Linked DNA regions of Homo sapiens: regions 1, 2, 3, 5 and 6 are each linked to region 4. Evidence: fine-mapped expression QTL. A gene starts in region 4. Each other region holds a variant in brackets. All regions are shown on one strand. Distances are from middle to middle.

What was found. PIP is the estimated chance that this variant, and not a neighbour inherited with it, causes the effect.
Region 1: its variant is fine-mapped to the expression of CHST15 in whole blood (INTERVAL, PIP 0.90).
Region 2: its variant is fine-mapped to the expression of CHST15 in whole blood (TOPMed, PIP above 0.99).
Region 3: its variant is fine-mapped to the expression of CHST15 in whole blood (TOPMed, PIP 0.93).
Region 5: its variant is fine-mapped to the expression of CHST15 in whole blood (TOPMed, PIP 0.94).
Region 6: its variant is fine-mapped to the expression of CHST15 in tibial nerve (GTEx, PIP 0.96).

Annotation. Positions count from the first base shown.
Region 1 is chr10:124,060,002-124,065,229 of GRCh38, forward strand. The region is part of intron 1 of CHST15 (carbohydrate sulfotransferase 15); the gene reads right to left. Among named protein-coding and RNA genes, the nearest start is that of CHST15, 31 kb to the right of the region's middle. RefSeq lists an enhancer at 1-514. The variant A/T (reference allele first, on the strand shown) is at 2,011.
Region 2 is chr10:124,039,420-124,044,647 of GRCh38, forward strand. CHST15 (carbohydrate sulfotransferase 15) reads right to left here. Exons shown (of 8, transcript NM_001270764.2): 3 at 5,161-5,228; 4 at 2,882-3,028. Among named protein-coding and RNA genes, the nearest start is that of CHST15, 52 kb to the right of the region's middle. RefSeq lists an enhancer at 3,816-4,055. The variant C/A (reference allele first, on the strand shown) is at 2,874.
Region 3 is chr10:124,009,237-124,014,464 of GRCh38, forward strand. It overlaps CHST15 (carbohydrate sulfotransferase 15), which reads right to left. Exons shown (of 8, transcript NM_001270764.2): 7 at 3,097-3,244; 8 at 1-1,103. The coding sequence ends at 913. Among named protein-coding and RNA genes, the nearest start is that of CHST15, 82 kb to the right of the region's middle. The variant C/T (reference allele first, on the strand shown) is at 2,364.
Region 4 is chr10:124,091,667-124,096,894 of GRCh38, forward strand. It overlaps CHST15 (carbohydrate sulfotransferase 15), which reads right to left and starts at 1,932. Exons shown (of 8, transcript NM_001270764.2): 1 at 1,803-1,932.
Region 5 is chr10:124,132,353-124,137,580 of GRCh38, forward strand. It overlaps LOC105378536 (a long non-coding RNA gene), which reads right to left. Exons shown (of 4, transcript XR_946428.3): 4 at 1,439-2,994. Among named protein-coding and RNA genes, the nearest start is that of CHST15, 41 kb to the left of the region's middle. The variant G/C (reference allele first, on the strand shown) is at 2,572.
Region 6 is chr10:123,996,668-124,001,895 of GRCh38, forward strand. No RefSeq gene overlaps it. Among named protein-coding and RNA genes, the nearest start is that of CHST15, 94 kb to the right of the region's middle. The variant T/C (reference allele first, on the strand shown) is at 2,984.

The DNA of each region.
Region 1 (5,228 bases), 32 kb before region 4:
ACAGACCCAGCCCTTACTAAGCCTGCCAAGAGGTGAGGAGAACAGCTCCAGTACCAACCCAGCTTGGCTGTAGGGACCTCAGGAGTGTGCAGAGGTGTGCCAGCCCCCATGCAGTGTATGCACAGGTGTGCCAGCCCCCATTCAGTGTGTGCACAGGTGTGCCAGCACCCATGCAGTGTGTGCACAGGTGTTCCAACCCTCCCCCGTGTGTGCTGGTCTTCCCCAGGAGTGTTTGATGTGCCAGCCCCGCCCCCAGGAGTGTGCAGAAGTGTACCTCCCCCAGGAGTGAGTGTGCAGAGGTGTGTCTGCCCCCCCAGAAACGTGTTGTGCCAGGATCCTCCAGGAATGTGCAAAGGTGTGTCCCCCCCGAATGTGCGAAGGTGTGCCAGGCCCCCCAGGGGTGTGTGGAGGTGTGCCAGCCCCACCAGGGGTGTGTGGAGGTGTGCCAGCCCCACCAGGGGTGTGTGGAGGTGTGCCAGCCCCCCAGGGGTGTGTGGAGGTGTGCCAGGCCCCCAGGGATGTGTGGAGTTGTGCCAGACCCCCAGGGGTATGTGGAGGTGTGCCAACCCCACCAGGAGTGTGCAAAGGTGTGCTTCCCCCAGGGGCATGTGGGCATGTGGAGGTGTGCCAGCCCCTCTACCTCCAGTGTGCAGAGGTTAGCCAGGAGCTGTATGAAGCTGTAAGACAAACTGAAGCTTCCATGTTTAAAATATTCGAAATTTCAAACATTGAAAACATTGTTTTCAAATGAAGTTATATCCACGTATATACTAACTGACACAAAATTTGCAGAGATCCAGCTTGCCTTGCTGGCTGCAAGCTGTCGGGGCCAGCCTGGGAAACCCCAGGGAGCTCTCACTGTCTTTCACCTTTGAGTACGAAGAGGAAAGTTTGAGAAGCACTGGTGTAGGGAGAAAGGGAAAGGAACCAGGATGAGCTGCCATTTTATGGCAGGCATCAAGCTGGGAACCTGCTTCCTCTCATCTCTTTCTGACTTTTAGACAACGCTAAAGGTAGGTGTAATCGCCCCATTGTGCAGATAAGAAAACGGTGGCTCTGGGTGGGGTGACGTGGCTTGCCCTAAATCACACTGTAAGTAAATGGCAGAACTGGATTTAAACACAAGCTGAAGCCCAAACTGCCTCTCACTTCATGGAGGATGGGACATGCACATTCACATTCACTCCCTGATATGGTTTGACTGTGTGCCCACCCAAATCTCAACTTGAATTGTAGCTCCCAGAATTCCCACGTGTTGTGGGAGGGACCCAGGAGGAGGTAATTGACTCATGGGGGCCGGTTTTTCCCGTGCTATTCTCGTGATAGTAAATAAGCACGAGATCTGATGGGTTTATCGGGGGTTTCCGCTTTTGCTTCTGTCTCATTTTCTCTTGCCGCAGCCATGTAAGAAGTGCCTTTTGCCTCCCACCATGATTCTGGGTCCTCCCCAGCCAGGTGGAACTGTAAGTCTAATTAAACCCCTTATTCTTCCCAGTCTTGGGCACGTCTTTATCAGCAGCGTGAAAACGGACTAATACACTCCCCACACAGTTTCCCATTGTTGATTGTGGGTAGCATTTGGGGGGCTATGCTTTCTGTTTACACATTCCATCTTGCTTCCAATTTTACTTACATAGAGCAAGCATCACTTTTGTAACTACAAAGATAATAAAGAAAAAATAATAAATGTTGCACAAAAAATGGTGTGGCAAATAGAAAACGGACTGGGCCTAGGCCTCCAGGACGTGAGTTCACGTCCAGTAAGACACGTCTCTGAGCCTCAGTTTCTTTATCTGTTGAAAATGCATGCACTCCTTGCCTCCCTCGTCAGATCAGGTGAAATAGGGAATTGAAATGAGGCCATAGGACCACATAAGGCAAGGCAGAGGTGGGCTAAAGACTGCGCAAAGCACCAGTGGGAAGCTCTGTCCAAGCTGCACTGTGTCCCCTCCTTTCTCAAGTTATCTTTGAATTAATAACATCTTTCCTCCAGACATACTATAAATCATT[A/T]AAAAAAAAAAAAAAACCCTTCTATTACCATTCAACTCCAAATGACAGGCCTGGGAGTGCAGCCGGGAAGGACATTTTCCCTTGTCTTCTCTGCCACTGCAATGGAAAACCCCAAGCAGACCACAGAATTCCCTGGAGTGGGCATGCATCTTTACACACACGCACAGACCAAAGGAACTCCAGGTCCAAGAGCAAAAGGGACAATGTGACCCCAGAGGATGCTGTTTTATGAATGTTCACCAATGCCCAAAGAGCGTTTGACAGAGGCAGCCTAGGATCTCATCCCATACAGCTGCTGGGCACATAGGAACGGGCACATACCCTTGTGGAAAGAGAAACATGGCGGGGAGGAAAGATGAAAAGCCAAAACCCAGAGGCAGGTGAACATCCACACGTGCCATCTGGTTTGTATCAACCCCTTACCGGCTGTGTGCCCTCGGGCAAACTGCTTTGCACTTCGGTGCCTCCCTTCGCTGATCTGTAGCAGGGAGATTAACGGCAGTACCGACCCCATGGACAGGCGTGGAGATTAGACGGGAAAATCCCCACAAAAATATGCCCATAGTGCCTGCCAACTCCAACTGCTCAACAAACGGCAACCACCACCACCAGCAGCCTCATTTCTTTTTCTTTCCTCCCTCCCGTTTCTGCAAACAGGATCTCAGCTCAACAGTAAGGACTTTGGCCTGGTGTATAAAGACCCAGCCGAGCCGGAATCAGTGGCCGAATACTTTTAAAAAGGATGAAGGGAGCCCGAGGCTCTGACAGTGAAGTGGCTGGCCCTAAATCACACTGCAAGTAAGAGGCAGGGCTGGACTTAAACGCAAGCTGAAGACCTCTCACCTCATGGAGGATGGGGACATGTACTTTCACATTCACTCATCAAGCAGTTTCCCATTTTCAAGAGTTGGGGGGCTTGGCTAAAGCTGCATGCAGACCAGCAATGTCTGAATAAAACTGCTTTGGAGAGGCTGGGAGAGAGCCCTTCTCCACCCTGATGTGGCCATGAAAACGCTGGTCCCACCAAGACACCAGGAGGCAAAGAGAGAGAGATCCAGACAAGAAACTAATTAAAAAATGGTCATTTCAGGCTGGGCGCAGTGGCTCATGCCTGTAATCCCAGCACTTTAGGAGGCCGAGGCGGGTGGATCACCTGAGATCAGCAGTTTGAGACCAGCCTGACCAACATGGTGAAACCCCATCTCTACTAAAAATACAAAAATTAGCCGGGCGTGGTGGCAGGCACCTGTAATCCCAGCTACTCGGGAGGCCGAGGCAGGAGAATCGCTTGAACTCAGGAGGTGGAGGTTGCAGTGAGCTGAGATCGCACCACTGCACTCCAGCCTGGGGGGACAGAGTGACACTCCGTCTCAAAAAAAAAAGGTCATTTCAGACCCTCCTTCTCCTTGTCAATTTCCTCTAGCTTTTTAGATAACAGACCTAGTTTCTGATAACTCCACTCAGATCTAGAATCTAGATTTCCAACCTCTGTAAAATAGGTCAAACAAGTATTTATTTATAGACCTATCACCCAAGACACTGAACTTGGATATGCCCAGTCCATCAAAAATGAATCTTTTTCTTTTCTCTTTTCCATTAGAGACAACCTAAAAGTGTTGATGGGGCATGGCTCGAAAAAAAAAATCTCACTAAGTTTCAGTATTCAGAGCTGGAAAAGTGAACATTCAATAAATATTATAACAAAGGCATGTTCCCCCAGAATACCCACATCTCTCCGGAGCACAGCGAAGACCTTGCTTAAACCACCGCTGTCTTGCTCATCCTGTCAAGAAGCAGGGGCAGCTGCCAGCTCTGGAAGGAAAGCCTTCTTTTGCAGAGAGGTAGAGTAGAGAGGGGAAGGGAGAAGTGAGAGTCAGCAATACAGCGTATGAATCAGACAGCTGAGCTTCCAGCGTTGTTTTGTGTCCTCAGTGCTATGTAAACATGATAATAAAAAAAACTTGTTCAAAAAATAATAAGTGGATCTTGGCTGAGGCACAGTCATCTCCCACAAAGCAAACGATCTATGGTATGAGAAATTAGTAACCTCTCTGAATTAATCACAGAAGAGTGGAATCTTTCTCATAAGATCTGGAAAGAATTCAGGCCTCATTATGAAGGCCAGGACTTTCTTGCAGATAGCAGATTTCCTCCTGGGCTAAAACGAAATCTCAAAAAAAAAAATAGACTTACGAAAAGTCATTGTAGCTGACTGGTTCAAGCTGACTGGTACAATCAAGACCTGCTCTGGTTTCTGTTTCGGAAAAGTAAATATTTGATCAAAGCACACAGTTTTCAGACCTGAAGTCATTTCAGATTAAGTAAGAATTTCGCTTGATGCAGTCAAAGTGCCTGTGTGATGGCCTCCCCATCCCCAAGGCCTTCCCCATCCTTGCAAAGGTACAGCAGTGGCCACGGAGCAGAACGCAAGCCCCTGACTGGGAGTCCATGGGGATTCAGGGTGCGCAGCGTAGGCACAGCCCTGGCGCTGTGGGGCTTGCGGCCCGGGAGACACCACGAGATCATGAAACAACCATACCCACTCTGTGACTTTGGGCAGGTCCCCCAAGCCCTGAGCCCCTCTTCGTTGCTGGGCTGTACCTGGGAACATTCAATCCCCCTTGCAGCACTGCATCCCCCCAACCCCACCCCCGAGCCCCCACTCCTGCTGGCGGCCTTTATCTCGCTGTCTCTGTGTGTCCATCTCTGCCTCTCCCAGCCTCCTTAGCCAGATCCCATTTTCCCCAACACCACTGGCCCTGCTAGATGCATTCGCTCTTGCTCACCCTTCAGATCTCAGGCAAGGACCCCTTCCCTGAAACCCCAGACCACACTGGCCCTGCCCTGATCCTCCAACCCTTCCCACTTCCGTTTTTTGTGTGTGCTTGTCTGACTAGCATCCGCCTTAACCAGCTGACAGTCCTATCAGCTCTGTGAAGGCAAAAGAGTCTCTTCTTTTGTTCGCTTTTACAAAAAAAAGTCCTGAAGAAAATTCTAAAGGTAGGCAGGCAACACACATAAAAACATAGCCCAGTCATAAAGACAGAATGCCCAATACATGTTGGGGGCGGGGGTTAAATTTAAAATTTGGGCTGAGCGCGGTGGCTCTTGCCTGTAATTCCAACATGTTGGGAGGCCGAGGTGGGAGGATGGCTTGAGCCCAGGAGTTCAAGACCAGCCTGGGCAACAAGGCAAAACCCCATCTCTACAAAAAATTT
Region 2 (5,228 bases), 52 kb before region 4:
ATTTGAGTGTGATTTCCTTCCTTGAAGCTGTAACTGTTCATCACAGAGCATACTCTAAGACTAAAAGAGAGAGGGGCTTTGCCACAGGGCTCACACGCCCTGTCTCCTGCGAGGCGACTGCTCTGCACGCAGCTGGCGCCTACTCAGTGCAGCCTGGGTGAACGGGAACTGGGTCCCAGCCAGTTTCACATTTCATCATGGTCCTCACGAGTGAAGGATGTAAATGGCAAACACACGTCCCAGCACAGAGGTGATGCCAAGACACAGGCAGGCATTCCAACAGCACAGACTCTCTCAGAGGATGAAGCCAAATTTCCTGAGGGTTTGAGGAGAGACAGTGTGTGTGCGTGTATGTGTGTGTGTATATGTGTGTGTTTAGGAAAAAGGAAATTCATCAATCAGCTCTACACTTGATTTCCTGACAGTTTGCCAAGGACCACAGGACACATCTGAAAGTTACTTATCTGGGGAGAGACTGAGCCAGATGACTGAGTCTCTTTGGTCAGTGACAAGTGTATCATATCCCTGCAGGCCCCTATCATTTCTGTCGGATGCGTAATCACATCCAGGTGAACAGCTCTGTTCTGGCCTTTTGTTCTTTCTTTTTTTAAAGAGATAATACCCTAGGATACAGAAAAAACGAGTCAATCAGAAGTCCCTTGAAAATTCTACTCACAATGAATAAGAATATAAAGGACAAGTGAACTCTCTAGCTAAATTGGCACAAATTCTGTCAGATCTCAAAAATGAACTGGTTTTAGAGCCATGGAGGCGTTTGTCCATCCACCTGACTGTCTTCCTTCCATCCAGCCACCATCCATCCTTCGTCCATCCAGGAAGCATTAACTTAGTGTCTAATCCGTGCTCAGCATTGTGCTTGGCACCAGGGACAGATCAGGGGAGGAAAGCACGGCCCCTCCTCTCTCGGACCTTAAGACATAAGGGGGACGATGGCAATTCAAGAAACAAAGAGTACCACGATGGGTACCTGGGAGTAGAGGCAGGAGACTTTCAACATGTCTAAAGCTCCGGCCTCAAGTTCAGCCATCACGTTCAGGCCACTTGAATCCTGAACCTCTTGTGTGACTCTAGCTGTCAAAAAGACAGCAGAAGAAAGGTCCTCTCTGACCTAGGGGCCCAAGATGATGAAAGATCCTGCTGTTTCTGCCCCGAATCTAACAAAGAGGAAGCGCTGGGGCAGAGCTGAGTCACATTTCAGAGCTGGAAGGAGTCTAGAACTGACCTGGTCCAACAATCCCACTTTGCAGAGGTGCAGACAGAGTCCAGGAACAGGAAAAATGAACGGCCGCAAGGCACAGAGCTGGCCGCTGGCCCAAGCAGGGCTAGATACTTGTCACACCACAAGACTACCATAGAACTCACCAAACTCTGCTTTAAGTAAATATCAGCACAGTGATTTTATTTTTCATTCTTTTTAAAATCTTGGAGCAAGCAAAATTAGGAGACCAAACTGAGGCTTTCCTTTTTCATTCATTATCTTAGTCTCTGTTTCCTGGCCGGAGAATACATATTTTCATCTCTTTCATAAGAACATGTGATTTTCCCAGAGGCATATGGTATAGGAGTCACAATGAAATGTAAGTCAGACTTGAGATTTGGGGAGTTTGGACTCCCAAGTTTGCAAAAAACTAGATAACAGCCAAATCATACTGGAGGTGACTCCCAGTGACTTAATTTCTTTGAGTTTAAAAGAAAAAAAAGAGTTAAGTCAGGACTTAGGCACATAAGTCTGTCCCCTTGGACAGGAGAGTCTTAAGTTAAAAAGTCATCTTTCGAAGGGCTGATTATAATTCCTCTTAGTTGCTAATAGATTTATTTAATTTGGAGATTGCAAATATAACAGATCTAGGAAAATTAAAAAATAGATCACTATCTAAGGTAAACAATTTAAGCAAAACGTGACTCAATTTCTCTTTTAGAAGGCATCAGTGGATAAACGCCTTCTAAGCTGAATCCAATAAAAAGAATTATGTCAGGCAAATAACAAGTCTAGAGATCTAAGGTAGAGCATGTGCACTGTAGTTATTAATCCTATTAATCCTGTATTGCATGCTGGAAATTTTCCAAGACAGTATATTTCAGGTGCTTTTACCACACACACGCCCCCCTCCCCACACACAAAGGTAACTGTGAAAAAAACATGGCTATGTTAATTTGCTTTACTGTAGCAATCATTTCACTGTCTCTATTTCCATCGAAACATCACAGTATGCTGTACACCTTAAATTATACAATAAAAAATAAATTTTAAAGAGTAAATATGTATGTTTACTTATAAAATATTCTTGTGAATATTTAAAACAAATTATTATTAATCAACCTCACTTTGAATGCCCAAAGGCATGAGGTTGACAGGGGCTAGGCTTTTTAAACAGCAATTAGTTATAGGCGATGTGTCAGAGCTGAGTCTATTTCAGGAGAAGCTGCCTCCGTCTTATATGGTCCCAGTGGCCAGGGATTACAAAAGCCCCAAGCAGCAAATCGATGACTAACCAGTTAACTGCACTTATAATTCCCCCATCCAAACTTATCAGATCAGTACATCAGGAAAAGAAGTCAATATCCCTGCTTAATTTCTTAAAAACAAAGAAATGGCAACTTCTCAAGAAAGCCATCAGCTGTCCTTAAGTCTCCAAAGAATTAGAAAGTCAACATTTCCACTTTATAGTAATGTTCAAGTGATGTGAACATTTTATGTAGTGGTAAGAGTGACAGCCAGGTGGAGAAGTGGAGGCTCAAAAGAAGTTTGCTGCCACCATGTAAATGTTCTGGAGGTGAAGCAGAGCTGGGCTAGGCCTGGAGCCAGAGCCAGGACCCCAGGGAGGGTGCTAGCCCTGCCAGAGTGACACAGA[C/A]GCCTTACCGATAATGATTGTATTCATCTTGCTCTGCTCCTTTGCAGAGCTGGCCTGCAGTCCTTGATGGATCTGGTGTGCGGCCAGGTCAAAGAGGTCCAGATAATCTTCCACGGGATAGCGGTCTCGCAGCCCATCTCTTAGGCGGACGATTCCTATGAGAACCAAGAAGCAGGAGATACTGAGGACAAAGTTGCTACTGCTGGAGCGATGGCCTCCCAGACAGCAACCAAAGAGAGATGGAAAGGCCTAAAGGGCCTGGCGACAGCAGCAAGAGGCTCAGCCCAGGTAAGCTTCAGAAAGGGCTGCTGGGGATGGGGGTGGGGGTCTATGCGGCCTGGCTACCCACTTCAATCCATGCATGCTTCAAGGGCTGGAAGATACCACCACTAAGCTAGACAGTGGCAGATTAAAGGCTGGAACACCTACTCAAGAGCTAGAAACATGTCTGCTTGGAGGGACAAAGTCTGGGGCTGGTTAACTTGTGCACAGGTGGGACTCGTAAGTGGCTGGGCAGCGATGACACCCAGGATGCATGTGTTGTGTCAAACAGGGAGAGAGGACCGAGGGCTGCCCACAGGAGAGAGAAGGGCAGTATCCTATAAACTCCATGATGCCTTCCTCATGGGGCCCAGCCAGCACCTGCCTGATGTTCTCTCTCCTCCCCCTGTTCAATCAAATACCCTGCCCTTTGTCCAAACAGTAAGGGGAACTGATCATACTCTAGACAGACATGGATTCTGGCATCGGCCACATACAGCTTAAATTCACCCCCTGCCTGAAAAATAAATAAATTTCACTTGCAAACATTTAAAAATCCACTTCCCAACACCACAACTCCTGAAGTCAATGGAAATTGGAAAGAGAACATCCGTGGCCAAAGTAACAAGAGGTTCAAGGTGACATTGAAGACTAGATTCCAGAGGCCCGCCTCTGTTCTTCCTCCTTTCCTGCCGGTAGAAAGCTGGTTTTCATTAAGGGGAAATCACTGTGAGCCTCGGGGGAGCACCCTACAGCAAGGGAGTGTGTTCAGACACGTCCAGCAAATGCATAGGGATGTGAAACCCTGGCTCCTACAGTGGCGGCTGCTAAACCACAAAAGAAACATTTACACTTTAGCTCACTGTAGGACGAACATCAAAAGGATGAAAGCAAACGTTTGTCAGGAAACACATTAAGAGTTGGTCTAGGGAAAACTTTGAAGATTCCCTTCTAGTCAACCTGAGTCCATTACTGGAAAACACCCTCGTGGCCTGCCAGGACTCTGGTTGACAATAGGCACGTATCACCCCTCAGCTCCAGTGACCAAACCTCTCCTGGCACAAGGAAAAGGTTACAGAGAGGAAACAGTGATCTGAGGACCGCAGGGTGCATGGGGTTAAGCTGGAGCAGAGAGGGATGGGCAGTGGTCATGGTAAGCCTGCGGCAAAGGGCTGAGAGCAAGGCCTCCAGAATGATCTCCATGTGGTTATCATATGGAACCCATAAGGCAGATGGGGCAGGTCAGAGAAGCTGAGGCCTGAAGCAACTCAGTCTCCCCCAGGTGCAGTGACTGCAGCTGGAACAGCACATAGCTGAGAACAGCACAGAGCAGAGGAACAGCACAGAGCAGGGGAACAGCACAGAGCAGGGGAACAGCACAGAGCAGGGGAACAGCACAGAGCAGGGAGCAGCACAGAGCAGGGAGCAGCACAGAGCAGAGGAACAGCACAGAGCAGGGAGCAGCACAGAGCAGGGAGCAGCACAGAGCCAAGGAACAGCACAGAGCAGGGGAACAACACAGAGCAGGGAGCGGCACAGAGCAGGGAACGGCACAGAGCAGAGGAACGGCACAGAGCAGAGGACCGGCACAGAGCAGGAAACGGCACAGAGCTTGGGAGCGGCACAGAGCTTGGGAGCGGCACAGAGCTGGGAGCGGCACAGAGCAGGGAATAGCACAGAGCTGGGAGCCAAGAGCCCGGATCACGCCCTTCTTGCTGGCCCTTACTGGCCACTGGCACTTACTGCTGACTGCTCGGGTCATGTGCCCGGGCTTTCGGAACAAGAAGAGCTGCCAGTTCTGACTCGTCCCCGTGTCCTGCACACAGCTGGCAATCAATGCTCACTGCATGGCTGGGAACCGAGTTCCAGACCCTGCTGGGTCTTTGCCTGGGAACAGCCTCCTAACAAGGGAATTGTGCCATCTCTTTCTGCCGCCCTCGCCCCCCAACCCCAGCGCTAACGTTGCGGGAGGAATGAACGAATGAAGGAACGAGACCAGACAGGAGCCCTGGGACCCAGCACTCACCAAAGCGCTTCCGGGTCCACCAGTGTGGCTCCTTGATGGCGGAGAACTTGACCTCAGGGTGCAGCCGC
Region 3 (5,228 bases), 82 kb before region 4:
CCTTGAGGTTGCTCATTCTGGCATTAACAGCAAAAATTTCTCTTCCAATTATAAACTGAAGTTCTTGAGAAAACGTATGAAGAGGCAGCAGAGAGAGAGCCAGGACTGGTTAAATGCAGAAAGTGGTTTTGTTTTAAACGCATTCATTTTCTATGTTAAACATAAGTCCACAAGGACAGAATAGGAGGAGGTCAGAAAGATGAAGGTGCTGCCAAAAACTGACTTATTTTTTTCCTTTTGGAAACAGTGACGTTAACAGGGTTTACATCTGAAGAAACTGGAGGGCTGAGTTTGGAGTAAAGGAGAAAAAAAAAATGAAGAGCCTCCATTCTCGAAAGACTGCGGTTCTCTGTCCCAGTGAGGTTAGCGATCGCAACAAGAGTGTTTCAGAAGTGAATGTGGTATGATCACACCTGTGAAGATAGCCATTGAATACAGACAGTCTGTGCAACACGGCGAGACCCCATCTCTAGGGGGAAAAAAAGGGAACGTGAAGTGTAAGTTCCAGCCAGGCCTGTGGCATGACCTCTGGCTTGCTGACTCAGAACCCAGAGGCTCTCCAGAAGGCGGAGGCGGGCAGGGCCAGGCTGCCTTCCCTAGGTGTTCTCTCCACACCCAGTGCAGGCCAGCTGGCTGCATCCCCAAGCTCCAGGACGCTCAGAGCAGAGCTGAATTCTTGAGAAACTGGGGTCTCCAATGGCCTCGGATAGAGGAGCTCTGTGAGGGGTCCATTGCTGAGCTCTCGAACATCACGAAGGAAATTCCAAAATGGTTATAATTCATGTGTGCCTAGAGTGGCAGAGTCCTGGGGTTTTCCATACCATGAGTGAAACAGTTCCCCGCAAAGAGATTTGTAAAATCCTGATGATGACGGCATTGGCGGGCCCAGCACGTGCAGCAACAATTCAGCTCTCACGTCGTCTTCCACGCAAACGCCTCATCCGCGAGGACCTGCGCCAGCCTAGCGTTGAAGGGCCTGTAGAAATCCCGCAGAATCTTCTGTGTGATGGGCCACATGGGCCCCAGGTTCCGGTCCTCGGGACGCCGTGCATTGGATGCGGGGCTCTTGGTCATCAAAGCCTCCTGCTTCTCACTTAAGGGCCCTAGAATAAAAGAAGACGAGTCCCGTAAGGCAGGAGGCATGGCAGGAAGTAAAAGGGACTTTGCAAAAATCCCAGCTATGCTTCGTATTCAGACAGGAGTTTCCTTTAAGAGAACATATTTAGGGATTAAAATTCTTTGGCTGGATCCATTTTGGAAGCACTGAGGGAGGAAGGTGGAAACACCATCAGGAAATTGCGAAGAAATTCTGCGGCGGGTGCAGGATGCCCACCCTCGGGGGAGCCCAGCTGGCATTTAATGATGATACAGCGTCTAAGGCTGACCTCAAGGATTCCCTTCCAATTGCCCTTGGTGGGCTGCTCTCCATGGGTGTCAGCCCGTCCTTGGAGGAACGTGCGGCCTGCCGAGCACAGCCCACGGGTTTCGGTTTTCCTGCTCAGCAGCCCTCTGGAATTCCGCCATCATCGTTTCTACTTCAGGCTGCTCATGCCAAGGTCCCTGGGCCTGCACAGTTTCACCCTGTGCGTCTTGCTGTGAAGTGGCCATAGGGAGGAGGGCTGGGAGGAGGCCACTTGTGCCCAGAGCCCCCACTGGCTGAACCTCCATCTGCAGCAAGGAGATCAGGGAGAAGAGGCCTGCCGGCAAGGGCTGTCAGTCACCCCCACGCCCCGCCCTCTGGAGTGAGGCGAGGCCCTGGAACAGGCTGGCAGAGGTTGTCAGTCACCGCCACGCCCCGCCCTCTGGAGTGAGGAGAGGCCCTGGAAAAGGCCGGGAGGGGCTGTCAGTCACGCACACGCCCCGCCCTCTGGAGTGAGAGGCCCTGAAACAGAACAGCAAGGGCTGCGACCCCAACGCCCCGCCCTCTGGGCCACAGCTTCTTGGTGTAACCCATCACTGCTCAAGCCTCTTTACCGGGGGCTCTTGGGATCTGGCCAAAGTCCTTAGCCCATAGACAGAAAAAGCATGTCCCAGCATCCTAGGGCCATATGAAACACAGAATTGGCCTTACTATCCATCTTGGGGACAAAAGACAAGCTCATTAATGGGACAGAGTCAACATGTGGTCAAATCAAAGAAAGATGATTCTAAGCCTTGGAAGGGAAAGAACTCATCAAACTCCAAAAAAAGGAGAAACAAAATCAAATGATCAAAGAGGCCCAAGTCCCAGTGGCAGGCAGATATATTTTCAGAAATACTCAATTAACCAAGTTCCCGGGCAAGACCATTAGTCAGGGCTGCAGGAGGCGTTCTGGGAAGGAGGGCGGCTTGTTCGAGCCTGCTCAGCCTTTCAAGCCATCCCT[C/T]GGTGCCCCGTCCACATGGGCAGCACTCGCTCCGCCAGCACATGCCTCTGCCAGCCATCACCATAGTCAGCAGTGTGGCCTGTCACCACAAAGTGACTCTCAGGCCCCTGGGGGGGCTGGTATCCACAGGCTGAGGGCAGGCGCTCATGCCCCAGGGGCCCAGCATCCATGATCAGCAGCCAAAACTCAGCCACACGGCTCTGACTCCTGGAATTTCCAAGAATACCGGAGATGATGCAATGATCTGTCTGTTCCCTCCTCTAAGCCCCAAGTCCTCTGCTCCAGCCCCCCGGTGACATCCTGTTGGTCCTACAAAGCTCAGCTCTCAGGCCCTTTCCTTCCATGAAGCCTTCCTCATCCGTGCAGTAGCTGGGATCCCAAACCATCAGCACATACCTTACATGACAGTGCTGACCTTCCCCACGGCATCCTACCTGTCATTCAGTTAGGTGAGCTATGGCTTCCTCCTCTCCCTTCACTAGACCATAAGCTCCCAGAAGGGAAACCATCTCCTTCTCTCCAGAGAATCCCTCACCATACTGTGCACAATGACCTATGTACAGCTAGTGCTCAATAAATGGTACTTAACAGGCCTCCTGAAGGACATCCCCAGGCCTCCCAGCTCAGCCCATTCCCACCCAGCTGACCAGGTCTGCATTTGCCCCAGAGGACTCCCAGAACAAGTCCACGGAGCTCATGCTTTGGCCCGTCAGTCTAAGCACCACACTCATACCTAGGTTCAGAAACTGGAAGACCTTGTGCATGGTGTACTTGACGTTGGATGCATGATCTTCCAGGCGAAGAATGAGAAACTGTTGCTTGTCAAAAACGCTGAGCCAGTCCAGAAGGTACACAGCATAGAGCCCAACCTGGAGCCTCACCTAGGACCACAGAAGAAGGGCATTATTTCAGGAGCAGTTGCCCCAACACCATAGGGCACTTTTCCAAAGTGGTATGGCATTTCACTGTACCACAAAAGAGTTATCCTAGCAAAGTTACTTTCAGAAGCTGGATTTTAACACAAGGTGTTCTTGCTTCTTTATGGGGGGTTTTGTGCTACATGTGCAAAGAATTCCTATATTAGGGGTTGCATTTCATCCTCACAACACCCTGTGGGTAGCGCCATGCCTCCATTTCACAGGTAAGGACTGAAGTGCAGGGAAGAGGTCAAGGTTGTGGCCACCAATGGTGTACATGTTCCTCGCACAATATCCTGGCTGTTTCTCTGTTCCCAGTGTGACCTCTATGCCCAGCACACAACGGGATGTGAAAAATCAACCACAGACACCCCAAAGACAACCTACATGAGTGAAGAGCCAAATGCCTGATGCCAGAGGAACATCCTTGACTGTGAGGGTGTGTGTAATTCAGCATCTAATCATTACTGAACCAAGTACACAGGAGGATGTTTCTATTTAAGTCCTTTCTACTTTCCAGTACCCATTTCCCGGGTCTTCACCCTTCTGTTCCTTCTCTCGTGCCTTACTGCAAGCCGTGTGGTGAAGATTTAACTCTACTCAGAGAGAACTCGGGCCTTTCCCTCGGCTCCTGGGGGTGATGTCTGGGCCCCTGGATGTCCTGCCTGACAGAAGTGTCTTGGTTGGCCTGAGGGCTTTGGTCATAGGCAGGCTAACACTGAGATTGATGATGGGGCCTTGGGCCACATGGTATCAGTTCTGACTCTGGTAGGACTGGAGACTAAAGGTCAGCCACAGCATCTGCATGTGACGGAACCCTAGTAAAAGGCCTGGACCCCCAAGGCTTGGCCTGGCAATACTCCACGAGGATTGCCACATACCATGGCCAGTGGCACTAACACCGTCCATGACTCCACAGGGAGAGGAGGACTCAGAGCTCCGCATTTGGGCCCCTCCTGGAGTCTGCCCCCTGCACTTCCTCTCCCTTGGCTGATTTTAATCTTCATCCTTTCCCTGTAATAAATCATAACCAATAGTGTAATAGCCTCCAGTGTGTTCTGAGAATCCTTCTGGAAAATTACTAAACCTGAAGGTGGGTTGGAGAATATCTCTCCTGAACTTGCAACTGGTGTCAGAAGTGAGAGCAGTCTTAGGAACAGTTTCCTCTAACTCCACAGTTCACCCTAAACTCTTAGCAAAGCTTCCAGAAAAAAACAGCCTCATCCCCTTTTGCTGTGAGGCCCCCTTCTCCAGGGCTTCTCCCCTTGCCTCTTCTCCAAGTGCCCAGGGACCCTGCTCTGCCTATCTGTGTCTGCCCAGAACTTCTCATCTCCCACCTCTCCCCAGTTCACACCACTCCCTTTGTTTATGCCCCATCTACACCTGCCTGAAGCTGATACAGCCTCCTGGCTAGTCCTCCTTCCCCTGGTCTCTGCACTCTCATATGCACCCTGCCACCAGCATGGGCTTTCCAAAGCAGTGATCTGGCCACAGCCAGCCCTGCTTAAAGCCTCCATGGCTTTCTATGTGTAGAAAGTCCTGGGCCTGGCTTAAACTTCCAGCTCATCCTCTCATACATGCAGCACTTCCTGGCTCCCCAGGCTCCTCCCTGGAGTTCCCATTTTTTAGGCAGACACTCTCATGTCACATTTCCTTTCCTGCCCAACTTGACCTGGACCTTGACCTTGAGGGCAGGGACTGTGGCTTCTCCACCATTCCCTCCTTGCAAAGCCTGCACTCTGGCCCTCAACATGGTTCTCGGGTGCAACTGCTGAATACAGTGCTAATAATAAGACAATGAAAGATTGGGCAAAATATGTACAGATGCTAACTATTCTTTTCCCATTTCATTATTTTTCTAACCATGGAGGAGGATGGAGAGGAAGAAAAGCAATTAGAGTGGATAAGTTGCCTTCAAAATTCATTAGCTGTTTCCAACCCACACTGT
Region 4 (5,228 bases):
AGAACTCGGTACAATTAACTTAACCAACGTGAACAAGGCGAAGGCGCCCAGCTGTCACAGCGGCTCCGCGCACGCAGGCAGACGAAGAAGGGCCCCCGCCCCCAGGAGCTGGTCCCAGCCTCCAGCCTGGCAGCCTCCTTCGAAGACTTCCCTACACTGGGCGCGGACCTCCAGCCGCCAGCAGCCGGCAACCCAGCCCCAGCCTTCCTCCTCTATACCCGCCGTCCCAGCCGCGCCGGCCGGCCCCGGGCGCAGGGCGGGCGGGAACGTGGGCACCCGGACAGCGACGGGGAGGTCAAGCAGCTGTGCCCAGGACCCGGGCGGCTCCGAAGCCTCAACACGCACACACTCGCGCGCACGCCGGCCCATCGGTTGCCTGGAGGAGTCGGGAAGGTGCTTCCACGGCTCTTCATTCATTTTCCCAAAGGCAAGGTTCCCTTCGCCCCGGCGCCTCTATCCTGCCATCCCAGGGGGCCAATTGCGCCACAGCCCGCCACCCAGCCACCCACAGCCACCGCGTCCTATCTCCCGGCACACACAACCCAACAGACTCGCATTACATCTCCACCGCCAGCGTCGCCTCCGCGCCCCGGCCGCTGCCATCCGGCTCCCCAGCTTCGCCGCCCCGCAGCCCCGGCTCCCCGCCTCTGGCCTCACCGCGCGGCTCAGAGCTGCCTCGCTCGGCTCGCCGCACCAAGGCCGGCCAGAGACGCCGCCACCGCCGGGAAGCGCCGGCAACTCCCGAGTCACGCCGCCTCCCGAGACGCGGCGGGGCGCAGGGAGGGGACAGCAGTGGGGGCGGGGCGGGGAGGAGGAAGGAGGAGGGGGCGGGGAGCAAAAGTTCACACCGCTCGGGGCTCAGCCGCTCCCCTATCTCTTCCCAGGCCCGCCCCCGCCATCCCCCTTCCCTGAACCGGGTCCCACGGGCTTAGGCGCGGGAGAGCTCTGGCCTCCCCGCCCGGAACCGCCGCAAGGCTAGAGCCAGGGTTCTGGAAGCGCATCCGAGCTCGCAACCGGGGAGAGAGTGGCGGATGCCCACTTACCTGCCCCGGGCCGCGCCTGGAAACTTCCCCAAAGTGCGATAGGGGTGTGGGGGCGGAGCGCAAGGCTGGGGGGAATCCCCGTCCCCTACCGCCAAACGACGCGCGCTCACACCGTGAAAGCACTGGTCTGTCCGTCGGTCGGTCCCCCGCCTGCGGCTCCCAGAGCTGGGCGGTGCAGGGGCGCCCCGATTCCGACTACTGGGCTCCTTCTCCCGGACAGCCCGCCGGTGCGTTCCACGCGGCTTGCGCCCCCCGCCGGCCTCCGGCTATCCACGGCGCCACCACGCCACTGCTCGGTCCCCTGTCCCCTCGCTCCGGCCGCGTCCTCTCTGCGAGGGAGGGGGCGTGTGTCGCCGCTGGGTAACCCTTCCCGCGGGGTCCTCAAGCGCGCAGGGCGCCCGGAGCGCGGCCAGGACCAATGGCGAAGGGACTCCTCCCGCTGGGGATCGCTGAAGCCTCGGGGAGGCCGGGCCAAGGAGCCCGGGGCCCAAACCTGCCTCGGCTCGTCGAGCTCGCAAGTTCATTGTCTGCCTGGGCCGCCGCCGCCACCGCCACCGCCACCACCGCGCCGGGAGCGCCGCGGGGAGTGAGGCTGCGCGCCGCCTCCGCCGGCCCGGACTCCCTACGCCCAGCCCCGGCCGCCGCCGGCGCTGCCTGGCCCGAACCCGCGGAGGGGCGCCGGAGCCCCGAGCCCAGGGCCAGACCTCCTACCGCCGCTCCTCGCCGACCCCACCTCGGCGTCTGGCACCTAACTTGTACCTGAGAAGCCTGAGTCCAGCCCGGGAGCCTCTGCGGCTCCGGCTCCGCGGGAGCGCGCCCAGCCCCGAGCCTCTAGCCCCGCATCCAGGGCGCGTCAACCTGACTCCCCGAGCGCTGGGAGGAAAAGTTTGGGAGTGACGTGCAGACGGCGAATGAAACATCCGAGGAGAACCCTCCCCCCGCCCCATGTCGCGCTGACACACATCAGCTCCAGTCTGGAATGTGAGATCAAGGCGTGTGCGCCGAGCGGTGGGTTTGGCCCCTGCCCCCTCCCCCTCCGAGTCAACACTGCTTGTGTGTTGCGGTGATTCCAAATAAAAGCACATCGAAACCCCTGAAATCTGGCAGTGACACCTTGCCAGATACTTCTTTTTTTTAAAGACAGAGTTTCGCTCTTGTTGCCCAGGCTGGAATGCAATGGCGCGATCTCGGCTCACTGCAACTTCCGCCTCCCGGGTTCAAGAGAGTCTCCTGCCTCAGCCTCCCGGGTTCAAGAGAGTCTCCTGCCTCAGCCTCCCGAGTAGCCGGGATTACAGGCATGCGCCACCACGCAAAATAGGCTAATTTTATATTTTTAGTACAGACGGGGTTTCTCCATGTTGGTCAGGCTGGTCTCGAACTCCCGACCTCAGATGATCCGTCCGCCCCCCCAACCCAAAGTGCTGGGATTACAGGCGTAAGCCACCGCGCCCGGCCGCCAGAGACATCTTTAAGGAACTTGGCGGTCTGGAGCCAGCCCGTACATTAATATTCAAGGCCACAGCGCTGGTGAGTTCGGCGCCCTCTGTTGTATTTTTGCATCCCGGGAAGGCTGGCCCGGCTCTTTGGCCCGGCGTGTTTTGCTTCCGCGGGGGAGGTAAAGCTCTGCAGGACCCCGATCGCCACGGCCTGCCGCAGTGGCCTGGAGTCGGCTGCCCCAGGGAACCACCTGGACAGCCCGAGGGCAAGAAAGCGGCACCAGTGGCCGACTCCACTGACTCTGGGCTGAAGATGCCATCAGTTAAAGAAAAGACACATGAAATTCTGGCAGATTCGCTCAGAGGGCGCTTGGAGCACCAAGCCCAGCCTCTCAGGAAACTGAGGTCCAAGGGACAAAAAGAATCTGCAGTCTCTTGCCGGCCTGTGTCCCCGTGGCCAGAGTCCAGCACCCTCTTCCTCGAAGCAACCAGAAGTGGAAATGAAAGTGCTCCGTTAACTGTAGACTACATGCCACCGAAGGGTCATTCCTGACAGTGGCTTCTCCCCATTATCTCTTTATTGCCGGAGGCTTCATCTCGCCCCCCTGAAGCTACAGTCCACCCTGAGGTCATAAACTTCTGCTCAGCACCCATGGCAACTAATGCAGAGGTCACCATCAGAGGATTATAACTGCAGATGGGAAACCGGGATGAGAGGGGAGTTCTTTAAAATCCTGTCTTGTTTTCCTGCAAATAATGCCTCTTACATAAAATCTGCGAAGAAAGATGAATGCAGCAAAGAGACTTGCCTTAGAATCTCAGACTAGATTGCTTTTTCCATATAGACTCCACTTAGTGATTTTTGTTCTTTATTTTTTTTTTAAACAAAAACCTATTTCTGAAAATACAACGAGCTGCTTTTTGCAGGGTTCACAATTCCCAATAGATGATGATGCCATTTTTCAAGGTCTCACACACGTTGTGGCTTTGGGGCTTATTTATTAGCTCCCAAGAAAAGCCTGCCTTTCAGTGAGGTTTATATACTCGAGTAATTGCATCAGGGGACACAGAGCAGGTTGCTGTTAAAGAGGGTTGGTTGTACATGCGTCTGCAAGGAAGGCCCTGGGCCAGGCAGCTGTCAGACCAGTGTGCAACGGGTTTAAACAAACACAGGGAAGGGTCTGTGGAAACAGCAAGGAGGAAATCCCCTTCTGTAAGGGTGTGTGGAACATTATTCCAGGGCCACACATACTGCCAGGGAATAATGCCTTTCCTCTCCTCCCTCCAAGTAAACACATAACTCCGTTATGGAGATGGCGCTGGGCCCACCCAGATCACTTTCAAATTCAGGTGTCAGAAACCACGGTTGACATGGAGCAAAATTGTTTTTAAGTAAAAATCACGGTGCCGCTTTGATATGAATTCCACCAGGGACTTTCCAAAGGTATTTATACACGTGCCTGAGATTAACTAGAAGGTGATTTTTTTCCTTTCAACCTTAATTTCAAAAAATTACCCAAGAATTGCACTTGAGCCTGTTACTGCAGAGAATTGAAAGAACACCCAAATGCCAGGTCCCTGTGGATGGGTGGAAGGATAGACAAATAAATGTGTAACTGCAAGAGAGGTTGATACCAACATGGTATTAGCAAGTCACGGCTGAAAAAAATGCAGATACCGGCCAAGCACGGTAGCTCACGCCTGTAATCACAACACTTTGGGAGGCCGAGGCGGGTGGATCACTTAAGGTCAGGAGTTCGAGACAAGCCTGGCCAACATGGTGAAACCCCGTCTCCACTAAAAATACAAAAATTAGCTAGGCGTGGTGGCGCAAGCCCGTAGATTCCCGGGAGGCAGAGGTTGCCGTGAGCCGAGATCACACCACTGCACCCCAGCCTGGGTGACAGAGTGAGACACCCTCTCAAAAAAAGAAAAAAGAAAAAAAAATGCAGATACTTTCAGAAAATAAATCCCCGCTTCCCGTGTGTGCACTCTAGGCCCCCACAACTGTGGATTTAAATTGCCTGGGTTCAAATTCTACTTCTGCCACCCACTAGCTGAGCAACCCTGGGCAAGTCACTTCTTTCCATGCCTCAGTTTGAGGCTTCTGGTAGCACCTACGAGCAGTCAATTGAGCTGTTGATCCCAACTCCTCACTCTCCCGTGGTGGTTATCACACGTCTGCATCCTTGTCACAGCCTTCCAGTGCAGGGACTGTACTTCCCCATTCCTTGACTTTGGACTTGCTTTAGACAATGAGATAATGGGGAATATAACTGGATCAGAGGCTTGGAATGTGCTTGCAGGGCCAGACCTGCTTTCCTCTGCTCTGGTGGTCCACCATGAGACGAACATGTTGCTGCCTCTTCCAGAGAGGCTTCAGAATGAACACACAAGGAAGAAACCTGAACTTGATTCGCTGTCTGGAGCCATGTCACTCCACATACAGCAGGACTCAGAGCTGCTTTAGGCAACCTACAGAACATGAGCAAGGCAGGGAAAATGCTTATTGTTGCAAGCCACTGAATGTTGCAAAGTGTTTTGTTACACAGCATTGTTGTGGCTGTAGCTGGCTGATACATGGCCTCAGTGGGCTAGTGTCAAGACTGAAGACAAAGTATTTTAAAAATACTCAGCACAATTCCTAGGACACAGTAAGAGTTGAAAATAGTAGTTCTTATTAGTAATCATTATTATTGCAAGTAGTTTTACCCATGATAGTCACATAATTGAATGTTTGTTAACATGC
Region 5 (5,228 bases), 41 kb after region 4:
GTCAGAGGAAAGTGTAAAGGGACTTTGGAAAATAACCCAGCTGTGGGTGCTACAAGAGAGGCTGCCTTGTCTGAGCAGGAGGGAGGCCCACTGGTCAGGGTTCCAGCCAAGAAGGCCGCAGCTCAGGACACGTTTTAGGACTGGCTTAAGACCTGCTTTGTGAACAGGGAAACCGAGGCAGCCACCCAGGAATGCAGAGCACCCTGATGCTGTGGGATGGTGGAAAGGCCTGGTCACCCAGGGCTCATGGCTAGCACATCAGAGGCAGGACAGTCACATGCTCCCAGGTGCTGCCCCATTGTCTGGGGGGCGGGGTCTGAAGCCTGAGGGACAGGCACCAGCGACCCCATTGCAGGGCAACAGGACGGGCAGGTAGAAAGCTCCTGTTCCTGCTCCCCTTCCCCTGCTTGGCTTTCCCATCTGTCATTCACTCCTCTCTCAGCCTCCCTCATGCTCCCAGATTCCAGGTCACCGTCAGGCATATGCTATGTGGTCCAGTCCCCAGAGGACAGAGATGAACCCAGAAAGCAGGAAAATAGCGAGGGGTGATAGGAGCCTGGGGGTCACGAGCAATGGGATAAGAAGATAAAGAAGGAATCCAAGTAGCTCAAAAAAATGAAGTCAGGAAAAAAGTCTTTTGAAATAGCGTCATTGATAGCATTGCACTCAACATCCTGGGACCTCCCTGCAGATGCTTGGGTGGAAGCCGTTTCTACACTTTTTCTCCTGTCACTTAGCCAGATCTCTCCAGAGTCACTGATATTTCTAGTTAGCCTCAGGCTGAGGCTTGGAAGTTCCTGGATATTAAAAATTAACATGGGCATGTGCGCTTTTCTTAAAGCAAGAACAAGCTAAAGTAGAGAATTTAAGAAGTCAGCTACTGTGTGATCATTTTTCCTGCCCCATGGTTCAAGGGTTTGACATTTTCATTCATTCACTGCACAAATGTTTATCGAGCTATGTGCCTGGCTTGGTTTTGAAGGTAATGGCACCACTTAAAGCTGCTTGGGTACTTCTACATATTTTTAGCATTTGTACACTTCCCAAACCACCAGTTGCTTTAATCCCACAATTTTTCAGGGGAAAAAACAAAAGCATTGTTCCGGCATGAAATACCTGCACAGGGCCAGCCTGGGCAAAAAGGAGAGTAGAGAGTCGGTGGTCACCTGTGGTTACCAACACTGGATCTCTCTACCACGGGGCAGGGGCTGGTGTAGTGGGAAGGGGAGGGGGGCATCTAGCAACCCCACAATAAGCAGCACATGGCAGTTGGAAATCCCTTTTGAAGTTTTGTTTTAGTAGAGGAGAGCTCTGTTATTTTCAATATGCATAATACTTACGGAGAGTATCTGAAAGAAATTAGCAGATTCTCAGGTTTTAGAAACCCATACTTGCAAAACGTGAGTAAATAATCCAACAAGGTATTGCTATCATTCAGGTGTTTTAAACATTTGTTTTTCTTACTCCCATACATGCTGGCTTCCCTCGTGAAGCACTAGTCAAACGACGCAAACGCCCAAGCCCGTAAACACATTTCTGATTATCTGAGGAGGGCTGCATGAAGCAAACTGGCAGAAAATGTCACTTGGACACCTCTAGGAAATGAAGAAACATGGACCTGCCCAGTTAATTTCCAATGCTGTCACTGTTTTGATGACACATCTCAGAGGAGGACGTTTTTCTCCCTTGCAGAGTGTAAATCAACCCGTTAGTCCTACGAAGCTCCCTGAGACAAGGTAGCAAATGTTTCTGCCATTTAAACACTGCCACTGGATGGCCAGAGGAGTGTCCCCGGTGCCTTAGAAGGAGCTACACACTGTCTTTGGACACCCCATGACATCTGTGTGGCTGTCTTCTCAACAAGGTTGGCTGTGTCCTGCTGTCAGCAAGAAGCCCAGGTGATTGGCAGCAGGAGCTGACCCTTCCCTCAAGTTTGGTCACTACTCAGATCTGTCTCCAGGGCCCTGAGCCAGGGAGGACCCAGGCCAGCTCAAACACCACATCCACCTTTCCATCCACAGGGCATGGCACATCCAGGCTGGGCAACATTGATGGGAGCACACCCCCTGGCCCACTGCCAGACCACACACCCACCCCTTTGCTGGGACTGCCCGGGCCTGGATCTGCCTCGAATGAGAATAACTCCAGTCTGCCTCTCCGTCCGGATTAAAACGCCTCAAAGAGGGGGTCTTCCACGCAACCTGTAACCCACTGCCAGGCACGGTTAGTGTTTGTTGAATAGATGTCAGCCAACTGCATGATGAACTTTGTTTCTTCCAGCCAACAAACGGCAATTTTCAAATGTTTTTCAGCTCTTACTCTTGATTTCTTCTACCTAACAGGTAAACAAACATTTGTGGAGCATCTCTAATGTGCCAGGCCTGGTGCCATGCTGGAAATGGGGAATGAATAATTCATGATCTCTTCCTTCAAGGAGCTCAGAGTCACATGGATGAGACAAGAGGTGAGCAGATTGTTTCCATGGGGTGCTCTGTCCCACTCGCTCTTTCCCATGCTTCAGGTCCAAGCCCCAGAGGACCCCTTCAGAGAGAGCATCCTATTTAACACCAG[G/C]TTTCCTGCTATCTTTATCAAAGCACCTATTGATTTATTTCATCAATAGCTATAATTTCTATTTATTTGATTATTTACCTATGTATCACTTGTGTTCCACCAGATAATAAACTCCACAAAAGCAAGAATATTGTCTATTTCGTTCTTCTTTGTAATCCTAGTACCTAGCACCTAGTAAGTACTCCATAAATATTTCCTAAAGAAGGAGTGTGTGCAGTGACATCTCTGACTGCTGAATTAAAACTTGCAGCCTTGCCTGTCCTGACACTCCTTGGACCCCTTCTTTGCTGTGCTTTTTCCTCCAGTAGTTGTCATACAAGTCATTCATGTATATTGTCTACTGACGGCCCTTCCACTCACTAGGATGTACATTCTGTGAGAACAGGGAATTTTTCTATTTTGTTCACTGGTTTTCCCCAGCACCTAGAACAGTACATATAGTAGATGCTCAATAAATATTGTATGAATGAATGAATGACAATACAATGTAGAAGTTAGTAGGAAGATAATTTAGTCTATTATGGGCAGGGGATGTCACAGAAGACTTCCTGCAGGATACTGCACCTGAGCTTATTCTTTATTCTTTTTTTTTTTTTTCCAAGATGGAGTATTGCTCTGTCACCCAGGCTAGAGTGCAGTGGCATGATCTCAGCTCACTGCAAATTCTGCCTCCCAGGTTCAAGCAATTCTCCTGCCTCAGCCTCCCAGTAGCTGGGATTACAGGCTTGCACCACCATGCCTGGCTAATTTTTGTATTTTTAGTAGAGACAGGGTTTCACCATGTTGGCCAGGCTGCTCTCAAACTCCTGACCTCATGATCCGCCCGCCTTGGCTTCCCAAAGTGTTGGGATTACAGGCTTGAGCCATTGCGCCCGGCCAAGCTTATTCTTAAGTCCTAATGAACACAGTGACCAAAGCTGACTCAGGAGGAAATAGAAAACCTGAACAGTTCTATGACCACTAAACAAATTAAATTAGTTTCCACCAAAAACTGCAAGGCCCAGATGGTTTTACTGGAGAGGTCTACCAAACTTTTCATTCCAACTTATGTAAACTCTTTCAGAGACTAGAAAGGGTGAGACCATTTTGTGAAGCTAGTGTAACCTTGGTAATTCAACCAGGTAAAAGCATTTGGGAAAGGAAAATCTCTGGCTAACATCTCTCAGAAGTATGTATGCAAGAGTACTAACAGGACATTAACAACCCAAATCTACCAAAGCCTATAAAATAATAATACATCATCATCAAATTGGGTTATTTGAGAAATAAAGATGGTTTATTATTAGTAAGTTATTGGTAATTTCACTATATTAAGAGATTAGAGGCAAATATTGGCATCTTATTAATGACAGAAAATGACATTAGATAAAATTTAACCCTCATTCATGATAAAAGTTCCTGGCTATTTAGAAAAATATGGTACTTTACTTAATCCAACAGAATAAATTTAAAATAGCTACATAAACATCATATTTGATGGTAAAGCACTGAAAAACATTCCTTTTAAAATTATAAAATAGGCAAGAATATCTGAGATCATTGCTTTTATTCAACCAAAAAAGTTGACTCATTTGGAAGGGGGAAGGGTTGACTATTAGATAAATGGTGCTGGGAAAATTGGCTATCCACATAACAAATAAACTGGATCCCTACCTCAGATTATATGGGAGAAAAAAGACAAAAAGCATAAATCATAAAAGAAAAAAATAGAACAATTTAAGTAAATAAAAAAAATTTTGCTAATCAGATACAAATAATACAAAAATGTTTTGTCAAACAAAAAAAGGCAAACCACAAACAGGGAAAAAATACTTGCAATATATCACCAACAACAAAAAAAAATTGCCAGCCATAGGGGTGCATGCTTGTAGTCCCAGCTCCTAGGAAGGCTAAAGTGGGAGAATCCCTTGAGTCCAGGAGTTTGAGGCCAGACTGGGCAACACAGCAAGACCACCATGACCCTGCATCTCTTTTAAAAAGATTATCCAAAATATATTTCAAATCACTAAAAAATTATTAGAGGCAAAACAGAAATAGAGACAAAAGTTATACACAGGCATTTCACAGAAGAAGAAATACAACAGTCTGCCTATAATCGGGAAAATATCAAGTCAAAACTACAATGGGATTCCATTTTACATCCATTTACTGTCAGAATTTGTAAACCTGTCAATAGAAAAGGTTAGGCAACCATGTAGACTGAAGAGAAATGTTTTATATACCACTGACCAGCATATAAACTGCTCTATTTTAACAAATTATTTGGCAACATACGGTAAAACTGAAGATATGCTGGGCCTATGAGTTGCACTTCCATTTCTGCATGATACCCTCGAGGAGCTCTTGTCCATGTGCAAAGGAGATGTGGTTAGCAGTGTGCACAGCAGTAGGTTAATAATAGCAAAAACAAATGTCGTATGAGAGAATAAACACACACACTCACAGAAACACACACACACATTTAAATACTGTACTTTACTGAAAATGGGTGTGAACTGGAGCTCTATGCATTAACACAGAGCACCTCAAAAACATGATAGAGGGCAAAAATGGCAAGTTATAGGAGAATATAGAGAGTATGATATCATTCACATAACATGTGAAAGCATTTTAAGCAACAGTGCATACTGCTTAGAGATGCACGCATACATTCACGT
Region 6 (5,228 bases), 95 kb before region 4:
TTTGTTTTCAGAGGTGGGGTCTTGCTCTGTCCCCCAGGCTGGAGTGCAGTGGCATGATCACAGCTCACTGCTGCTTCAAATTTTGGTGCTTAAGTGATCCTCCCACCTCGGCCTCCCAAGTAGCTGGGACCACAGGTGTGTGCCACCACATTCTGCTAATTTTTATTTATTTATTTATTTATTTACTTACTTACTTACTTACCTACTTTGTAGAGACAGGGTCTCACCATCTTGCCCAGGCTGGTCTCAAACTCCTGGGGTCAAGGGATCCTCCTGCCTCGGCCTCCTAAAATGCTGGGATTAAAGGTGTGAGCCACCATGCCCAGCCTCAAACTGTTTAAAGATTCCTTTATACTCTTAAAAATCATTGAAGATCCCAAACAGCTTTTGTTTCAGTGGCTTGCATTGATTGATATTGACTATCTTCAAAATTAAAGATGAGAGACTTTCAAAGCACAGAGACACACAAGCACGCATTCCGTCGGCTGTCAGAGGCCAGGGCTGGGGGCTGGGGGCTCTGAAAATCTTTATTTGTACCTTCTGGAGAAAATGAGAGCATCAAGGGCAAACAACATCTCAGTTTGACCGTGAAAAGAATTTGGACTTTGGATTCCCTGAAAGGGTCGCAAGTGGTCCCTGGGCCACTCTCGGAGAGCCACTGAGGGAAGCTGATGAAATATTAATGCAGAAAGGGAGCTGCTCCCTGAATGCTAGGCTGGAAGCTTTGGAAAGTCCCAGCACAGATGAGGGTAATGATTTGGGGAAAATAATCACACAAATAATGAAGGACTCTGCCTCGAGATTGCCTTGCAAGCGCCTTCCAGTTCTCATGTCCCTTTAGAAACACTGAAACCAGAAATCAGTGCTGATTCACTGCTCTGTGGTTTCTGCCACAGAGATGACCCAGAGCTCCAATCAGTGGGCTCATGCTCAGAGAAAAGGTTTTGGCTCCATACCAAAAGGCAGACAAATAGATGTGCTGTACTTCACATATTTGAAGTAAAAATAAAATGTTTAAGAAATGTCTATGTGGTTAAGTAGGACTTCCCCACCCATCTAACTTGCCCAGCTAACGCTGCAATTACGGATGTTGCAAGAACGTTGACTCGACCCAGCCTTCCCCTGCTACGGTAAATGTCCCTCACCCCTCCACCCTCAGGCTGGACACCAGCTCCAAGTCTAATCCTTGTCTTTGACCATTTGGGGCTTGACTTTGCCTTTGACCTTGCCTCCATTGCCTGCCACATCCTTCAGTTAGTGACAAGCACAAGATGGGTCAGATTTGGTGGGTTCCAACACTGGGTCCAGTACTAAGTGTGTGACCTTGGAGCAGTCACCTAACCTCCCTGAGCCCCAGCTTCCTTTTCTGTAAAATGGGAAGTTACACATAAGCATACATATACCCCAGCTCTGTGGGTGCCGTCAGTAGTGATGTCACCATCCCATTGGTACAGTGCCTTTGAGATGGCCCTTCAGCCGTGCTTCCTACTCCCAGCCCCTGTGATCACTCACTTGGACCATAGAAGCCTCAGCCTTAGTCCTTCCATTTCCAGGCACTTCTACCTGCTCCAAATTAATGACCTAAATCCCTGCGCTAACCAATAATTCCTCTGCTCAGAAAATGTCAGTGTGGGAAGCTCAATACACCACTAGTTCAACCAAAGGCATTTACCCTGAGACCCAAACCCTCTTTGACCTTGTGCCCACTTACCTGGGTGGCTTCACCTCCTACTGCTACAACAATCGTGCCTGAGGACCATTGCTGAGGTGACCTGCCCCCACCTCCAGGGTCCAGATGCCATGTGGAGGGTATTACATGCGTGAACCCTTATCGCCATAAGGGCCTGAGTCTGAGTGCATACCCATTCTGCAGATAAGAAAACAGAGGCTCAGTAGCATCAAACCCTCTGCCTAAGGTCACACAGAGGACAATGGCAGAGCCAGGATTGTAGTCCAGGTCTCCCTGACTCCAAAGCCCAGAATGTTCGTATACTCCTTTCCGGAGGCACTGAGACCTTCCCTGCTCTTTTGGCCTTCCCTGCTCCCTGCCCCTGCTCACCCCAGCCCCTCCTCTCGGCATGCCTGCCCACCTTTCTAGATCCTGCCAGTCTTTAGGGCTCAGCTTAACGCCACCTCTTTCCTGATGCCATCTGGGTCACAGCCCCCATGCACCCTGCAGACCTCTCCTCTGCTGGAGGTTCTGACATTTGCACAAGGCCTGCATTCTTCTAGGCTCTCCCTGTTCCTTCCTTAGGAAAGTGAGCCTGGCCCTTACGGTGAGGTCCTCTTTCCCTGCTTCACACTCCAGAGCGGCAGGCCCCAACTTTTTGGCACCAGGGACCAGTTACATGGAAGACAGTTTTTCCACAGTTTGGTGGGGGGGATGGTTTGGGATGATTCAAGCTCATTACATGTATTGTGCACTTCATTTCTATTATTACTATACTGAAATACGTAATGAAATAATTCTACAACTCACCATCATGTAGAATCAGTGGGAGCCCTGAATTTGTTTTCCTGCAACTAGGTGGTCCCATCTGGGGGTGATGGGAGACAGCAACAGATCTTAGATTCTCGTAAGGAATGTGCCACCTAGATCCCTCACATGCACAGTTCACAATAGGGTTGGAGCTGCTATGAGAATCCAACGTTACCACTAGGAGGTGGAGCTCAGGTGGTAATGTGAGCGATGGGGAGCAGCTGTAAATAGAGATGAAGCTTTGCTTCTCACCTCCCGCTGTGTAGCCCAGGACTGCTACTGGCCCATGCCCGAGGGGTGGGGGATTGCCTGCTCTACAGCATCATCACACATGCCTTTGCCCCATCTAAGTTTGTTGAGTGAGTATTATGTGCAGTCACTGATTCAGGCTCTGAGGCTGCAGCCATGAACAGAGTTCCCACCTCAAGGAGCGGAGGTCCCTGATGGGCAGAGGGCTGCTGAAGCAGCAGCAGACACACAGATGGTCCAGTCTCAGGTGACAGC[T/C]GTGAGCAAATCAAGCAGGGAGGCTGGCCATGCAGGAGAGGTATTATTTTGTGTAAGTGGTCAGGGAAGGGACCGTAGTGAGGCGAAGGCACTGGCCTGGCCAGGGTCAGGGAAGGGACCGTAGTGAGGCGAAGGTGCCGGCCTGGCCAGGGTCAGGGAAGGGACCGTAGTGAGGCGAAGGTGCCAGCCTGGCCAGGGTCAGGGAAGGGACCGTAGTGAGGCGAAGGTGCCAGCCTGGCCAGGGTCAGGGAAGGGACCGTAGTGAGGCGAAGGCACTGGCCTGGCCAGGGTCAGGGAAGGGACCGTAGTGAGGCGAAGGTGCCGGCCTGGCCAGGGTCAGGGAAGGGACCGTAGTGAGGCAAAGGTGCTGGTCTGGCCAGGGCCAGCGAAGGGACCGTAGTGAGGCGAAGGTGCCAGCCTGGCCAGGGTCAGGGAAGGGTGTGCCAGGCAGGGCACCCCAGGGTCACAGGCCAGTACAGGGAAGGGCTTGGTGTGCTGAGCATGGCGGTGAGGTCAGCATAGCCAGGGCTGAGGTGAGTGCGGGCAGCTGAGGTCTCAGAGGTCAGCAGGGCAGGGTAGAACCCAGGGAGGGCCTCGAGGGCCATGAGCAGGTCTTGGCCTTTTATCCTAGGTGTGTTGGGGGGTTGGGGAGGGTTTCAAGGAAGAGAGTGACATGGTTTGAAGGACTGCAGGGGAAAAGTGACAGTGGAGGTGCCAGGAGGGCCTTGGCCCCGGCTCTCACCACCATGCGGGAGTGGTGCGGGGGTGGGGGGTGTTGAAGCATAGGTTTCACTGTTATTCGGGTAAAGTGAGACCAACAGCTCAGAAGATTGTCTTTAGCCGGGCTCAGTGGCTCATGCCTATAATCCCAGCACTTTGAGGAACTGAGGTGGGTGGATTGCTTGAGCCCAGGAGTTCAAGACCATCCTAGGCAACATAGCGAAACCCTGTCTCTACAAAAAAATACACAAAGTTAGCTGGGCATGATAGCAGGTGCCTTTAGTCCCAGCTACTCAGGAGGCTAAGGTGGGAGGATCACCTGAGCCCTGGAGGTTGAGGCTGCAGTGAGCCGAGATGGTACCACTGCACTCCAGCCTGGGCATCGGAGTGAAACCCTGTCTCAAAAAAAAAAAAAAAAAAAAAGATTGCCTTTGGCACAATGGTTTGTTACTCACAGTTCCCAAGAGGAAGAGACACACCGGGCTATGTGGGGCCACTGGGAAGCACCGAGGGGAGGAGGCAGAGAGAGCCCTGGGGAAATGGTGAGCCAGAGCCTTTGCTGTGGTTTTCACAGGAAGAAATGGACAAACAGCAACTGGGCTATGCAGGGCTAGAGCTGAGTTTGAATAATTTTATGGGGCTCAGAGTGTCTGGGCTTCCAAGTTTCTGGCCCCTGGCCCGCGGGGCGACTGGGGAGCTGCATTGCCCACTGCAAGTGCTCAGGAAGGGAGATGGTCGGGGTGGGCTGGGATTGGCCGTTTTGCACACAAAAGGTGTGCTCCAAGTGCCTCTATATCTAGGGGTTAGCTAGTCCCGAGAGGGCAGTCCTTCCCAGGCCAGCAAGATGTCAAAGGATCATAAAATACAGAAAATAGTCAACCAAACTAATACAAGAGTGGTCAAGATGAGGGGGCAGAGCCGGGAGAATGGTGGATCCTATGAGGCAGGATCCACCATTGGTCTCCTTACTATGACCAAGTGAGATCACCTTACTATGGTCCCTTCCCTGGCCCTGGCCAGACCAGCACCTTTGCCTCACTATGGTCCCTTCACTGGCCCTGGCCAGACCAGCACCTTTGCCTCACTATGGTCCCTTCCCTGACCCTGGCCGGGCCGGTGCCTTTGCCTCACTATGGTCCCTTCCCTGATCACTTACACAAAATAATAAGACAGGACGGTGAGAGAGTGGCTTGGGAAGGGGCGGGGTGGCTGTTTGGTCAGGGTGGTCAGGTTGACTGGGAAGTGGCTGTCAGCCTGAAGGAGGAAGCTGGGGGCAGAGCCTTCCCGCAGAAGAGATGGCAGGAGCAGGACGGCCGGCAAGATGGGTTCCAGGGTGGGTGTGGGCGAGCAGCGCCCGGGTAGAGCTCAGTGACATGGCCTGCATGGGCTGGTCACTGCGACTGAAGATGGAACCCTGCTGGGGAGGCGGCTTAGGTGGAGAGACAGACCCAAGAGCTCTGAGTCATTAATGCTGGGGGCGCCACCTGTCACGCAGTGGGTGCACCAGCCTGCGCTCAGGGCTGAG